Regions from separate parts of the Homo sapiens genome. Here region 2 is linked to region 1. Evidence: fine-mapped expression QTL. Tissue or cell type: fibroblasts. Region 1 holds a variant in brackets; the other region holds the start of a gene. All regions are shown on one strand. Distances are between the middles of the regions.

What was found. PIP is the estimated chance that this variant, and not a neighbour inherited with it, causes the effect.
Region 2: EPHX2 starts here. The variant in region 1 is fine-mapped to the expression of EPHX2 in fibroblasts (GTEx, PIP 0.93).

What each region holds. Positions count from the first base shown.
Region 1 is chr8:27,898,865-27,906,967 of GRCh38, reverse strand. SCARA5 (scavenger receptor class A member 5) reads left to right here. Exons shown (of 9, transcript NM_173833.6): 7 at 2,134-2,190. It overlaps LOC105379342 (a long non-coding RNA gene), which reads right to left and starts at 4,295. Exons shown (of 2, transcript NR_188147.1): 1 at 4,044-4,295. The variant A/G (reference allele first, on the strand shown) is at 4,154.
Region 2 is chr8:27,486,439-27,494,541 of GRCh38, reverse strand. It overlaps EPHX2 (epoxide hydrolase 2), which reads right to left and starts at 3,399. Exons shown (of 19, transcript NM_001979.6): 1 at 3,233-3,399. The coding sequence starts at 3,333. RefSeq lists a silencer at 3,316-3,595 and a cis regulatory region at 5,342-5,656.

The DNA.
Region 1 (8,103 bases):
CCAGGTGTGGTGACTCATGTCTGTAGTTCCAGCATTTTGAGAGGACCAGGCAGGTGGATTGCTTGAGCCCAAGAGCCCCATCTCTACAAAATATAAAATAATTAGCCAAGTGTGGTGGCACTTATCTGTAGTCCCAGCTACTTGGGAGGATGAGTGGGAAGGATCTCCTGAGTCCAGGAGTTGGAGGCTATAGTGAGCTATGATTGTGCCACCACCCTGGGTGACAGAGCAAGAGCTCATCTCTAAAACAAAATAAAACACACACACAAAAATCTAGAAATCCTCATGATACTATATCTCACAGGGCTGTCAGGAGGAGTGAGCAAGCACGTATGTGTGCAAATGCTAAAGTCCCTGTAGAAATGCAAGGGAGTGTTATGGTAGGTTGCAGCCCAGAGATGTAACCAGAGAAAGCCAACAAGGGGCCTGCAGGGCAGACACCAGGGCTGCAGGCCCAGGACAGCCCTCCTCCCTAGTCCTGCCAGACTCCTGACCTTCTATATACTCTTTTATTCCCCCAGGATTTACAATTTTAATTCAATTCTCAGATTTACAGTGCCAAAAATGTTCCTTCTGATTTGCTCTTCTTCCTGTAGGCAGTCCCCTTGTTTACGTTAGGGGAACCTACTTTTACAGTCAGTCTGTCTTTTCATGCTCGCTTCAAGATTGTCTAAGCCTCGTAGCATCACTGCGGAAGACAAGGACATCTGATGCTCTTTCCCCAGGCTTTCTACTCCTCACTTGTTAAAATGAAAACTAAGAAAAAAGTACTGCTAATCATTCCCACTCCATGTCTAGGGTGATCTCTTGATCTTAGATCACTGAGAAATTTTATTTTACTTTCTGGTCAGTGATGAAACAGGCTGAGGTTTTCCTTCCTTTTATGATCCCATTTTAAAAAGTTGATTTTAAAACAGATTGTAAAAGCAGCACATGCTTGTTGAAAATAAAATTAGAGACTGGGCAAGGTGGCTCATGCCTGTAATCCTAGCGCTTTGGGAGGCCAAGGCAGGCAGATCACTTGAGGCCAGGAGTTCAAGACCAGCCTGGCCAATATGGCAAAACCCCATCTCTACCAAAAATACAAAACTTAGCCAGGCATGTTGGGGCACACCTGTGATCCCAGCTACTTGGGAAGCTGAGGCAGGAGAATCACTTGAACCCGGGGAGTGGAAGTTGCAGTGAGCTAAGATTGCACCACTGCACTCCCGCCTGGGCCTGGGTGACAGAGTGAGACCCTGTCTCAAAAAAAAAAAAAAAAAGAAAAGAAAAGAAAATTAGACAACACAGAAGTGCATAAAGCAAAAAGTCTCCACCCCTCAGTTCCCCCAGCTCTTATTCTTTAGAATAACTACTGTCAATGCTTTGGAGCACACCCTGCCAGATCTTTTTCTGAGCATATTCCTATATATGTATATGGCTGCCTTTTTTTTTTCCCCCCCCCAAATCTTGGATCATCCTGGGCATTCTCCCCTGGAATTTGCTGGCTTGATTTTTTCACCAGACAGCATGCCCATGGGCTTTTGATTGGCAGATGTCTTTCTGGGGGTCCTTGGAATAGAAGTCCCTTGTCATTTTAATGTCCAGTGAGTGGTGCCAGGATTTTCTACTTCTTTGTAGAGGGAGATGCCAGCTGGCCAAACAGGTCTTCTTTAGCCATATCCTGGGAAGGAAATGCCACAATTCCCTGGTATCTCACACTTATGTTTTATGGTCTCTCCCACAAGAAAACCTGCTCAACATAGAACCCGCCTCTCCCCCTATTTAACTAAAGCCCCCTCTCCTTTGTTTTCCCCTGGGCTCATTAGAACAAACTTGGATGTGGACCTCTAAAACCTTGAGTGTTTAATAGGACTATCTTTGACTTGTCTTCTTCCTGCAAAATTCCATGTGCTCTTTGGTTCTTTACAAACGGGTGGGATTTTCTCACTCATGCCTCCTCCTTCTTGGGGTACCCAGGGCAGATGGCAGAATTGGCTGCCCTCTTCTCCTGCCTGCTGGGCTCTCCAGTTGCTGCTGGCTCCTGCCTGAGGGTTTCTCTGGTCTCGAGTTCATCAATCTCCTGCAGGTAATATTTTATTCACAATTAGGATTTCTTTCCATTTCTAATGCCAGTTTCCTCCTCTGTTTTAGGTGACCGAGGCCCAAAAGGAGAGAAAGGAGAGAAAGGAGACAGAGCTGGGGATGCCAGTAAGGACATTCTGCTGGGGCCGTGGGATATGGTGTTGGCACAGGGCTAGCTGTCCCCCAAGCAGCCCCATAAGTTTGGAGGTTCAGAGGCTGGAGCCATGGCTGGGGCTCAAGTGTCAAAGGAGGCTCCCTACCTTTTTTAGGGCTCTGCTGGTCTAGCAAGAGATGCTGATAGACCCCAGGGGCACTGGCCACATTTCTAGAGGTGTCATAAACCTGGCGGTTGTGTGCATGGATCTGGAGGCTTCCCCCGGTCACTCGCTAGCCCAGCTGGTATAATCTCTGTGCCTCAGTGTTCTCATCTATAAAATAGGGATAACAGGAGTCTTTACCTTATAAGGTCATTGTGAAAATTGAATGAGTTAATCTGTGTAAAGTGCTTATGATCATGCTGGACACCTGGTGAGGACTCAGTACCTGTTTGTGATTATTATTCTGTGTAATACACCCACTCAGACACGCTTCCTAAAATCATCAGAGGTGCTTGCACAAATTCAGCTACTGACCTTGTTAAAGGCCTCCCCTCCCTGGGTGTTACACAGGGAAAGGTGCAGAGACAAAGTGGCATCGCCTTTGTTTTCCCCATTTGCCACTGATGGAGGAGTGACGCTGGAGAGCTTGCGATCCGGCAGACCACCCTGTTAGTAATGGGCATCTTTCTGATGCGGTCCTTGCTAGAATGTTGACAAGGGGATCAGCTTATTTAGTTGTGCCACTCTTCTAAGGTTTACTTTTCCCCTAGAGAGGGCTACATGTAGAATCTTGGAGACTTGCCAGAGAAGAATGAACAGAGTCTCCTAGCCAAGTTTAAAAAGGAGCAAAAGAAAAAACACCAAACCCAGCATGTGGTGTTAGTTGGCTCTGTCCCACGTGAGGGCGCAAGCAGAATATCACTGCCTCTGGCATCTAGGCTCCGGTCTTGGCTCTGGGAGGATGGGGCCTGGGGAAAGAGTCCCTGTGTTAATAGCTTCCCCCCGGACACTCAGGGACAGGGGCCACTGCAGAGTCACAAGCTGGACACAGAAAGGGGTCTCATGACACCCAAATAAATCAAAGACTATCAGCCCCACCAAAATTCAACGCAATACCACAACCTACAGCACCACTAATAATTAGCCATAGGCCTCCATAAATAGGAGAAGGTTTCGAAGAGAAACCTACAAATCCTACAACCAAAAGGACACTTAAAACAAATAGAGCATATGCCATTATTCCCACATGGGCGATAACCATGACTAATGACATGAAAAATTATTGTTGTGCTTCAACTAGAAGAACACTAATGGCCAAGACCTGCAAAACACACCCGCTAATAAAAATTATTAATTACTCATTCATTGATCTTCCCACACCATCTAACATTTCTATATGATGAAACTTTGGCTCACTTCTTGGTGCCTGCCTAATCCTCCAGATCATTACACGATTACTCTTGGCCATGCAGTACACATCAGACACTTCAACTGCCTTCTCTTCAGTTGCTCATATCAGCTGAGATGTAAACTACAGCTGAATGGTCTGCTATTTTCATGCTTCCTTGGTCTCACTAGGTCCTTCAGATGAGATCAAGCACACTCAGGATGGTATGGTGCAGTAGGCCCTTCACATCACACTTTAGTCCCAGCTGTGCAGGACCAGAAGGAGACCTCACTCCCAAAAAGAGGCCTCCCCAAGGCCCCCTGACACTTAAACTTGCCCCTGCTTTCTCTCTGCCCTGCCCTCCCCTCCCTGAGGCATGATTCAGGATCAAATAGGAGCAAGGCAGGTGACAGCACCTTGTCCTTGAAAGTGATGGACTTGCCCGTAGAAAAACAAGGAAATGCCCAGGCTGATCCTGGACCCCCCACACTCACCTCACCTGAAGTGCTAAAGTCCACAAGGCCATCTGCGAGCTTCACAGTACTTCTAGCATTCTCTAGAGTCCCTTTCCAGGGCTGCTTAACTGGGTGTGTCTGACTGAATG[A/G]GGCCATCTAGTAGACCTGATCTGATCCCTTTTGTCTAAAGGGCTGGGTCCTGAATGCTGTCTTCGGGGTGCTGTTTTTCCCTGCTCTGTTTGTTGACTGGTTTCTGACAGAATGCTGCCAAGGTAGCTGAGAAGGATCGTGGCATTTAGTTCTGAGAAATAAACAACTCCTGATGGGGGTGGGCAGGAAGGGAGGAACTATGTGGAAAGATGGCTTTGAGATCAGAAACACTGCCCGCATGCCAGAGGGGCTCTTGTTGGGAATTCTCTGGTGGCTCTTCTTTCAGCAGACTTGAGAGAGCAAGTGAGGAGGTCGAGCCAGCAGGGCGTTCCCCATGCTGTGGAGGATGCGTGGTCTCTATTCACCTTGCTCCTGTGGGCCAGGCTGGTGGGCTCTGTACTGGGGTTGGGCCCTGAGGCCAGAGCTACGGTGCAGGGAGGTGAGAGCCAGAGCCACAGGGGTGCGGGGCTCCCTGGGGATGGGTGGGGAGGCGTGGGGGGAGGCCACCCCCTCCACTTGGCCCTGGAGCCTCTTGACTGTACAGCAAGAGGTGACATCAGCTCTGGACAGCCTCCCCTCAGGGACTGAGGCTTTCTTTCCTGCCTCGAAGAGCTACACCCTCATTGCAGCCCAGAACTCAGACAGAACCCAGAGCCTAAGCTTGCACAAAGCGCTGAACTTTTCTTTCCTGCCCTCTGACAAGACCCCCACCCCCAGTAGTCTCCAGAGGCAGTGAAATTGGGAGGTGAAGGGGCTGAGCAGAGACAGCTCCATGAACAGGAAGCTCTACACAACATGAGGAGGACTCTGGGAGACCCAGAGGAATCGTAGAACAAAGAAACTGGGAGGCCAGCCTCCATCTCCCCATTTTCAGAGGCCCATAGGGGAGGACGGACTTCCTCACGTCCTTAGGCCAGGGCTGAGGCTGAACAAAATCCCCAGCCGCTGACTTCCTGACCCTGGGATGGGGGCTTCGGCCCCTGGTCTTGGGTAGTAGGGCCGGGCTCCTTAAAACCCCAAGTAATCCCCTCTTTCACTGGTAGCTCCAGATGCAGATGTAAGGACCTTGGGGCTGGAGGGGAATAGTTGTCACGATTCAGGGCTGAGGTCTGTGCCTGTCCCATTGCGGGGTGTCTTCCCACAGCCTCTGCCCACCAGCTTGCTCTGACCACAACAACATCAAGCTGTATTCAGCCTCCTGCTTATGTTTCCAGGGAATTCCAGTCCCAGAAGCATTAACCATATCCCTGAGACCCGGGCTCTGTGGGGGAGAGCCAAGGCTCAGCTTTCAGAAAAGTGTGGAAATTCTGACAGACATGGTGCCCATGTCTGAGGGTTTCTTAGTCATTCCCTGCGCCCTGGGAAGCCCCACCGTAGGATCTACGGGGTGGGAAAAAAGCGTTTGCAGCACCGGAGAGCTACCCTCCTCCACAAGCCAACATCGTGCGGGAAGAGCCGCTAACCAGGGTGGCCTCTGCTAACCCCGAGGCCTTTCAACCTTCCCAAACACCTCTGAAGCCCGTGCCGTTAGCAGCAAAGACCTGAAGTTCCAGCAGATGGGGATGTAACTGTGCAAAAGGGACTGGTGAGAAAACATGACCGACACCCCTCACTAGGGACGTGGAAGTTGGGGGTTTTCCCTGGAGGAGGGCATGCCACAGAAGGCTTCTCAGGACCCATCTGAGTCCACATTAAAATATTTTTCAGAACAAAAATCTTGCCATTGTTTACCCATGTTTTGATCTGAAGTCATAGGATTTTAGGGTTGGATGGGTTTCAGACCCATTCCTCTCTCTCGCCCAACCCCACCCCACCAGTTTTCAGAACAGAGACCAACAACAGAGAGATGAGAGGAATCCCCAAAATCACCCAGCCTAGGTCACGGCCAAATTGGGTCTAGAATCCAGATGTCCCGATTTCTGCTTGCTGAGAGATAAAGGTTTTTTTCAGTCAAGGGCAATATCAGTCATTCCGTGACATGTTTGGCTTTTGGGAGTTTGGCCAGGAAAAAAAAAAAAAAAAAACCCGCTACGTATACATATCTCAAGAGAGAAATACATTTGTTTTACCCTAGTAGATGGTCCATTTGCAGGAAAAATAAATAGTGTTTTTGCAACTAAGGGGTGGGTGAAGAATTCAGGTTTTTTTTAAGTCCCACAGCATGAATTTAAAGCAGGATATAAGTTCAGATTGTTTAAAAAATCTTTCTCAATTTGGTTTCATATGGAAAAAAAATATGCAGATGACACCAGGGTGAATTCTAAACCAGAGTTTGTTGATGGTTATCATTCATGGCTTAGAGCACTTGAAAAATGTTTAACACTTCGTACATGTTTTCAGTATTTAGGGAAGTAAGTCTGGGGACGAGGGGAGCTGTGGGCACCCCAGCATGCAGTGTAAACTCAGAATAAATAATCAGAGGAGGAAGTTTCTAAACAGTTTTCCCTGCAGCTGCTGAGATGTTTCTGTCTCTGTTTTACAGTCAAGGAGGCAGAATCCTTTGGAGTCCTCGGACTCCCTTCTCCCATCCCTGTGCCTAGACTTTGCTGTACCAGGTGCCCGGGAGAATCTGTTTAGGATAATGGAGCACCAAAAGTTAGCCTTATCTCAGGCATGGAGAGACACAGCGACTGCACCTTTTTTTGTTTGTTTTTTGTTTTTTTGGTTTTTTTTTTTTAGATGGAGTCTTGCTCTGTCACCCAGGCTGGAGTGCAGTGGCACGATCTCGGCTCACTGCAACCTCCGCCTCCTGGGTTCAAGTGACTCTCCTGCCTCAGCCTCCAGAGTAGCTGGGATTACAGGTGCATGCCATCATGCCCAGCTAATTTGTGTATTTTTAGTAGAAATGGGTTTTTACCATGTTGGCCAAGCTGGTCTTGAACTCCTGACCTCAGGTGATCTGCCTGCCTCGGCCTCTCAAAGTACTGGGATTACAGGCATGAGCCACCGTGCCAGCTGACCCAAGTCTTAAAGAGTAAGTTCATGTCCACCAGGTGGATGTGGAAGTTGAATGTGTCCCAGGTAAAGAGAACCATGCTTGAAACAGCATAATGTTGTCTGATCCTCCCAAATAGTACAGCATGGCAAGGGTTTGGGATGTAAGAGACAAAAAATAAGCCTGGAAAGGAAGGTGGGGATAACCAAGGGCATTGCAGTGGTCAGGAGTTTAGGCTTGAGCCTCTGGGCACTAGGAAGCCATCCATAGGATTGTAATGGCGGAGCCTTGGCTGTCCCTGGTGGCCCTTTGCACATGACCAATGCCTCGTGCGTGGTAGACAGACCCTTCCTCTCGGGAAAGGCCACGTTCCAAATCCAAGTTTCTCTTCTGCTCCTGCTCCTTCTCTTGTCTGCACTTCCACTTTGAGAAAATCCTGTTTTTCAGAAACATTTCCTGAGAAGATGCGACCCCAACTCTATGCAGTTCTGTAGGAGCAGAGCTGGTGTGGAGCAATGAAAATGAAGATTCATTTCCCCTGCTCACTCCCACACTGGTGACCCCAACTGTGCAGGTGTTTTGCACATTGACCAATGCCCCAACCCCAGCTGGGTGTCCCACTATTCAATTCCATTCTGACATAATCAACCTGGAGTTAGTGAAGACCCCACAGGGTAAGGGCTCAGTCCCACAGGCTGCCCCTGACTTCAGATGAAATCTCAAATCCAAGCTTCCAGAACATATAAGCAACTGGCTGAAAGTCAGAGATTCCCTTTAGACCCCCTCCGTGGGTTTGATTATTTGCTAGAACCCAACTCACAGAACTCAGGAAAAGTTAGGTTCATCAGTTTATTATAAAGGACACAACTCGGGAACAGAGGGATGGGAGAGATGCAGAGGGCCAGGTATGGGGATGGGGTGCAGAGCTTCCCTGCCCTCTCTGGGCACGCCGCCCGCCAGGTACCTCGATGTGTTCTGTGTTCAGCACTGCACCTCTCTGAACCCTGTCCTTTT
Region 2 (8,103 bases), 410 kb after region 1:
GTTGATACCTTTGCAAATTGGATGAAGCCTTGTCCTGCAAGACAGAGAAGGCTCAAGAAGTGGTTAAAGTCCTAATTCATGAAGTAATTCCTAGATTTGGGCTTCCCCAAAGCTTACAAAGTGACAATGGTCTGGCTTTTAAAGCCATGGTAACTCAGGGAGTTTCCAGGGCACTAGAGATACAATATCACCTTCACTGTGCCTGGAGGCCACAATCCTCAGGAAAAGCCCATACAAGACCTTGTGACCACGAATACCGAATACCATCTTAACTTTCCAAGCCCTTTTATGCATCCAACACAACCTGTTATCAGGCCTGCCCCTGGGGCACCTACTATCCCATCAGTGTAATTACACCCTATAACTTCAAGCCCCAACTGATCATAGTAACTCCTGAGTCACCCAAACACCTCCATTCAGATGGCTTGTCTGCTTCTCAGGGCCCCCCAAAATCATCACCTCCTCCCTGTTTAACAAACAGTCTGGGTTTTGTAATGGCAAACATACTCCCTGCATGACCATTCACCCCTGGACCCCCTGCAGCAGCGCCCCCACCACTAGTGTATGTCTTCTTATCCCCTCTTTCAATTACTCTCTTGGATGGTTCCTAGTAGATACAAAACGGTTTTTTCTCCAATGGGAAAATAGAGCACAGGGAGCCACTCAGTCTGCTCCCAACACCCTTTCCAGCTGCTCACCAGAGCTACCTTGGCAAGTACTCTAGGAGTGTGGGAAAATGAAAACAAACTCACACACCTTTTTAACATACACAACCAGTTTATTCTACCCAGCCAAGGCATATTCTTCTTATGTGGAACTTCAACCTATATCTGCCTCCCACCAGCTGGACAGGCACCTGCACCTTCTCCTAAGTCCCAACACTAACAATGCCACAGGAAATCAGACCCTATCAGTGCCCCTCAAAGCTCAAGTCTGTCAGCCCAGGACCATACAACTAATACCCCTACTTATAGGGCTAGGAATGCCCACTGCTACAGGAACCAGAATAGCCAGTTTAACTACTTCATTATCCTACTACCATACACTCTCAAAGGATTTCTCAGACAGTTTGCAATAAATAAATCTATCCTTACTCTACAATCCCAAATAGACTATTTGGCAACAGTGACTCTCCAAAACCGCTAAGGTCTAGACCTCCTCACTGCTGAGAAAGGAGGACTTTGCACCTTCTTAGGGGAGGAGTGTTGTTTTTAAACTAACCAGTCAGGGATAGTACAGGATGCTGCCTGGCATTTACAGGAAAAGGCTTCTGAAACCAGACAACACCTTTCAAATTCTTATACCAACCTCTGGAGTTGGGTGACTTGGCTTCTCCCCTTTCTAGGTCCCGTGACAGCCATCTTGCTATTACTCACCTTCAGTCCCTGTATTTTTAACCTCCTCCTCAAATTTGTTTCCTCCAGGATCAAGGCCATCAAGCTACAGATGGTCTTACAAATGGAACCCCAAATGAGCTTAACTCACAACTTCTACCGAGGACTGCTAGACTGACCCACTGGCCCTTTGACTGGCCTAGAGAGTTCCCCTCTGGAGGACACTACAACGGCAGGGCCCCTTCTTTGCCCCTATCCAGCAGGAAGTAGCTAGAGTGGTCATCACCCAGTTCCCAGTAGCAGGTGGGGTGTCCTGTTATGAGGGAGGATTGAGAGGTGAGGCCAGCTGGACTTCCTAGGTCGAGTGGGGACTTGGGGAACTTTCCTGTCTTACAAGAGAATTGTAAAATGCACCAATCAGCGCTCTGTAAAACGCACAATCAGCAGCATTCTAAAAGTAGCCAATCACGGGGAGGATTGAAAAAAGGGCACTCTGATAGGACAGAAATGGAACATGGGAGAGGACAATAAGGGAATAAAAGCTGGCCACCCCAGCCAGTAGCGGCAACCTGCTGGGGTCCCCTTCCATGCTGTGGAAGCTTTGTGCTTTCGCTGTTCACGATAAACCTTGCTATCACTCACTCTTTGGGTCTGCGCCATCTTTACGAGTGTAACACTCACTGCGAAGGTCCACAGCTCCATTCTTGAAGTCAGCAAGACCACGAACCCACCGACAGGAACCAACTCTGGACACAACTATAGCCTCCAACTCCTGGGCTCAGGCAATCCTTCTGCCTTAGCCTCCCAAGTAGCTGGGGCTACATGCATGCACTAATGTCTAGCTAATTTTATTTTTATTTTTGGAGAGACAGGGTCTTGCTCTTTCACCCAGGCTGGTCTTGAACTCTCAGCCTCAAGTGATCCTCCCACCTTAGCTTCCCAAAGCACAGAGATTACATGCCTTTCCCTCAAGCTACTTGCCATCTCATCTTCCTTACTATATTAAAAGCAAAGGCTCCGGACATGGACTACTGGGGTTGGATTTCTGGCTCTGCTCTTTAACAGCTATGTGATTTGGACAGCTGGTTTCTTTCTGTGCCTCAGTTTCCTCATATGTAAAAGGAGGATATGAACAATGGCTTCCATGCCTGGCCTTCTTTTTCACTTTATAAATAAGTATACTTCTCTCCTTTCTGAATGTGGGAATAATACATTGTTTATAAATTTAGAAGTTGGAAACTACAAAAAAAAAAAACACAAAAAAAAGAGAGAGAGAAAGAAAATCATTACATTATTCCTAATCTCATTTGATGTACTTTGGCCTATTTCTTTCAGGCACTTTTCTGCATGTACCTTTTTTCCATAGCTGAAACCATATTGTATAAATAGCTTCAGATTCTGGTGGGGTGGTTTTTTCATGTAGTAGAACAGGTGTTTTCCCAAGTCCCTGAGCTCTCACTCTGCACACCCCATCTACCATTTCCCAGTGATGTGGCTTTGGGCGGTTGCTGCAGTTTGCTATTACACAAGTAAGCATGCAACCCACACCTGGGGAGAGAACTTTCTTCTCTCCTGAATCTCGGCTCGCATCTTTAAGCGCCACCCCATTAGACAGGAGGCAGCAGAAGCACAAAGCTCCATGAGTAACTCCTCTCCCTTTTGGAAAAGTTCACAGAAAGCAATTTTGGAGACCTTGGCAACGTTTAATTATGAACATTTAGAAAGACAACGGATCTCCTCATATGCACTGGGACTTCAGGGCCAGGTCTTCAGTTTCATGATTCGCATGATTCGCAGGGCTCCGGCACAGGAGCAATCTGAAAGCTGGGCTGCAAGCCCAGCGCGGTCTGCCTCCTGAGGCCCCGACCCACTGCGGCGGCGGCGCTGGGCCCCCTTACCTGGGCAGCGCCAGGGCCTCCTCCGTGCGGCCGAGGACGCCGAACACCGCTGGCAGCGCCAGCACCCCGTCAAGGTCGAAGACGGCCGCGCGCAGCGTCATGGCGGCGGGTCTGCAGCCTAGCACCCGGACACGCAGCTAACCTGGGAGATGCGCGAAGGCCAGGGCGCATGACCCGCCCAGCTTGGCCCGGCTCTGCCCCGCCCCTGCCCTGGCCCCGCCTCCTCCCCACACCCCCTTAACGGGACTCCGCCCTCTGCCCGGGTTAAGGCTGGACTCTGGCCGGGAAAGAGGCAGGGGGAGGGGCACAGGAAAGGGAGTCAGAGGGAGAGGAAGAGGAGGCCGGGAAGGCGGGGACCCCAGGCTAGAATCTCGCCTCTGGATGTAACGCTTTCTACTGTCTCAAAGGAAAGTCCAAAGTCTCTTATGCCCCCTCCCCACGCCCCTGCAGTAGCTGCTTGAAGAGGCAAACCCAGGCCCGGGCCTTCCTGGACGGACTGACAGCTCCCTGCGAACTTGCTGGACTTGGAATGCCTGGGAAAGAGGCCACAGACTCTGTGTGTGTGTGTGTGTGTGTGTGTGTGTGTGTGTGTGTGTGTGTGTGTGTGTGTCAGCACATCCAGTGACTTCTACATTCAGAACATAAGACCGTGTTGGGGGGCGGGGGAGGGGCATATCCAGTGACTTTTCTAGATTCAGAACGAAGGATCACAGATCCCTCACTATCCTGACCACTCCTCTAGGCACGCTCTTCTTTGCCAAGGCAAATGTGTTTCTAGAATAAAATATGATGTTCCAGCTATCGTGTGCCAGCCCAGAATACTTCGATTTCAATCTCTTGTGGAATGAAGCTTAGAAGAACTAAATGTAGGCTATTATTTTCCTTTTGTACATGCTACTTGTAATAATTCTGTCTTAAAATGTGCGAGGTTTGTTTTTAATCACCGATTTCCACACTATTGGCTCGTTTATGTTCCTAGAAAAACTAAAACTTTGGCTGGGAGTTCTTGAGCTGTTGTAGTGCAGCTCCATGAATTAAAAACCGTGTCTTTGGTGGAGACCAAACAGAGTGAGTGAGGTCTCCAACAGTGGAGAATTTACTCTTGAATGTGTCTCTGTGGATTTATCCAAGATACCCTCCACCACGGAGCTTCAAGAACCTTGTGAGGGGTTGTCAGATACCTCACTGTAACTGGGAGGTCTACAACAGTCTCTGGATCTAGCAATCAACAACAGGATTGACCAGAGCCGTGGGTTTCCTCTGGGCTGTTTGCCCTTAGCAAGCTATGCTGTTGCTTCCTTCTCTAGCTTGGTAACCTCTTCCAGGCTCCTGCCTGGAGCAGTTATTAGTGTTTTCTGAGATTCTTGCCAAAGAAGCAGAGAGTGGCCAACACTGCCAAATGTTACAGGAAGAACTGAAAAAAAAGCTGTCCAATTTTGGACTTGGATGACACCGGATGTTTCAGAACACTTTTTGTGGGCCCTTTATGGTAGAAACTGGATTACTCTGGATTTGAAGACTGAAAGATAGGCAGAGAAGGGAGTACAGCAAGCTAGTTTCTCATGAAGTTAGTTGATCTCAAAGGTATAATTGAATTTTAAAAAATAGAAAGAAAATTGCAGCCTGACCTATATAGTATGAAACCTGTTAAATCTCCAGATTGGGCATGGTGGCACACACCTGTAATCCCAGCACTTTGGGGCTGAGGTGGGAGAATTGCTTGAGGCCAGGAGTTTGAGACAAGCCTGGGCAACAAAGCAAGACATTCTCTCTATAAAAAATAAAAATAAAATATTAGCTAGGCATGGTGGTGCATGCCAGTAGTCTCTGCTATTCAGGAGGCTGAGGTGGGACGATCACTTTAGCCCAGGAAGTGGAGGCTGCAGTGAGCCATGATTGTGCCACTGCACTCCATCCAGCCTGGGTGACACAGCAAGACTCTACCTCCAAAAAAAAAAAAGAAAGAAATTAAATCTCCAACTTAGAGTTTCCTTTGGGCTCCAGACTTGCCAACTTCTTACTCAACATCTTACTCAACGTCAATATCCAACTTCTTACTGAACATCTTCTCTTGAGTGTCTAACAGGCATCTCAAATTTATCATGGCTAAAACAGAACTCTCTCTGCATTTCTACTTCCCACGCCTGTTCCTCCTAGTGTGTTCCCTATCTTACAAACTGGCATCCCCATTGACTCAGTGGCTCAGTCCCGAGACCACGGAGTTGCTTCCAGATCCTTGGCTCCCAGCCAAACCATATGTTCGTGTTTCTAGCGGTGGCCTGCTGATTGAGGCAGAGATAGCAGCTTCTAGTTCTATGGTGGTGTTTTCTGGGAGTCCTTCCTAAAGGCTCAGTCTGGAGCTCACTCCTCCATTCCGTTCAAAGATTGTGTAGGCTTGCAGTCTCTCATCTTAAATCCCTTTCTTCTGTTTCTATTTAAAATAACTACAGTGATTTCTGTTGCCTGCATCTGAATTCTGCATCTAGCACAGTATTGCTTATGAATACGTAAGTATATTTATACAAGCAGTAAAGTGTAGAGGAACGACATACCTACAGAACTAGATTTCATAAAGCCCCCTTTTGAGAAGAAAAATTTAAAAACATAGAAATATGAGTTTTACTTTCCTCTTTGGTTAAGAGAAAGCCATGAAGCTATCACATGGACTTTTATTTATTCAGGAGCAGTTAACTTGTAAATAGCTCTGGTGTGGAATATTTTTATAATGCCTTGTGAGTTACAGAGCTTTCTGGCTGAATTGCTTAGGCAAAGATTAAAGGTCTCAATTGCATTTCACTGCACTTTGCCCTTTTTCATGGTCGTGCTTCTCCTGTGTTTTCTGCTACTAAGGTACAGAGAGATAAGGGCTTACCCAGCAGGGCTATGGGAACTGGGTGGCTTTTTGAAATGTAAATCCTAACCCCTATGTCTTCTAATTTTAATATTTATGAAATATGTTTTAGGTGATAGCATGAATCATAAAAGATGGCTAATGTAGTAGTGAAAATTTATAAATTACACCTGATTTCAATCACTAAATTCATAATGAATGTACACTGACCTCATTAAGGTTTATTTTGGGTTTTCTGCCATTCCTGTGCCTTCTGCAACTTCCTGCTAGTCCTTGATTGTCAAACCCTATTTTATAAAATCTGTTTAACCACTAGGGGTTGGGAGGGAGGACTTTACACTGCTGCTTCTCTCTACTGTAGATACTCATGGAGTTCAAAGTAAAGCTACCTCTGGCAGTTTTCTAAACCTACAAACCACTTGAAGTTTTGTCTTTTTTTCAATGCGGCAAATGAACGAGCGTCTTTCATTCCATCAGCAAATATGTATCAAGCATCTTCTATGTGCCAGGCACTGTTCTAGGCACTTGGGATCAATTGTTAAATAAATCAGACAAATATAGGGGCCGTCAAGGATCTTCCATTTTAGTGGAATAATGAATTCAAATGGTAGTGGCTGGTGGCTTCTGGAGCAGTGAGAAGAATGAGATTGGGAATAGTGGTGGTGGCTACTTGCCGTTTTTCTTATTTGTCATTTTCCAGCTTCCTAACATCTATAACCTTTTCTTACATACAGAAAATTCCAGCCGGGCATGGTGGCTCACACCTGTAATCACAGCACTTTGGGAGGCTGAGGTGGGTGGATCACCTGAGGTTAAGAGTTGGAGACCAGCCTGGCCAACATGGGGAAACCCCGTCTCTATTAAAAATACGAAACTTATCTGGGCGTGGTGGCACACACCTGTAATCCCAGCTACTTGGGAAGCTGAAGCAGGAGAATTGCTTGAACCCGGGAGGCAGAGGTTGCAGTAAGCCAAGATCATGCCACTGCACTCGCAGCCTGGGCAACAGAGCAAGACTCTGTCAAAAGAAAGAAAAGAAAAGAGAAGAGAAGAGAAGAGAAAAGAGAAGAGAAGAGAAGAGAAGAGAAGAGAAGAGAAGAGTAGAGTAGAGAAGAAGAGAAAATTCCATCTGGCAGTGATGAAGTTCTGCTTCAGAGATACACAACATCCTTTCAACATCTTCTATTTTGATAGTTCTCACTGTTTGAGAACTACTACTGTTTTGAGTTCTACCTTCTCACAGTAGAATCCACAAACAACATGTTGCCCAGGCTTCCTTAATGCTGGCCAGGTGCACGGGCTCTGCCAATTGGGCATACTCGCCAGGGATTTGGGAATGGGGATGGGCAGCCCAAAGCCACAGCTGTGTGAGCGGGAACTTTCTTTCAGCGAAGGCAGAAGCAGCAGCATCTAGTTTTTCTGGGGAGGCTGTGATGGAGCTTCTCTGGTCTGGTCCTGAGTGTACTTGGTGCCCACGCTGGGGCAGAGTGGTGGCTTTGTTAAAATTGCACCAAGGGGTGGCCTGCGGTCACTGTGCTGTTCTTGGCTATATAGTTTCCAAAGCTGCATCTCTTGTCCTCCCTGAGATTCTGTGTGTTAATGTCCTATAATAAGAACCTTTCTGCTTATATGACCGAGAGGAAGCTCTGTAGTTTGTAATAAAAACCCTATAACGCATACCGGCCTTATGAATGTTGATAGAAGGAAGAACCGCATTGACTGCAGAATTTGGAAATGCCCTGTGCCCACTCCCCAGCCTGCCTGGAAGTGAGAGTGAAGGCCTGTGAGCTCCATTCAGCAACTCAGGTGCACCAACCCAGCCCTTACAGTGGGAGCAGGTGAAGGAAACAGGCCAGAGGAGAAGGGTGTCGGTCGGCAGTTTCAAGGGCAGCAGCAGCAGCGGCCAGGGTCCCTGGCTGGCAGGGACGGTGCAGGCCCCGAGGCCCTCAGCGCCCAACTGCAGCAGTGGTGTCTTCACAAGTCCAGTTCTGTGCTATGAGTTTGGCAATGACCTTGCTCT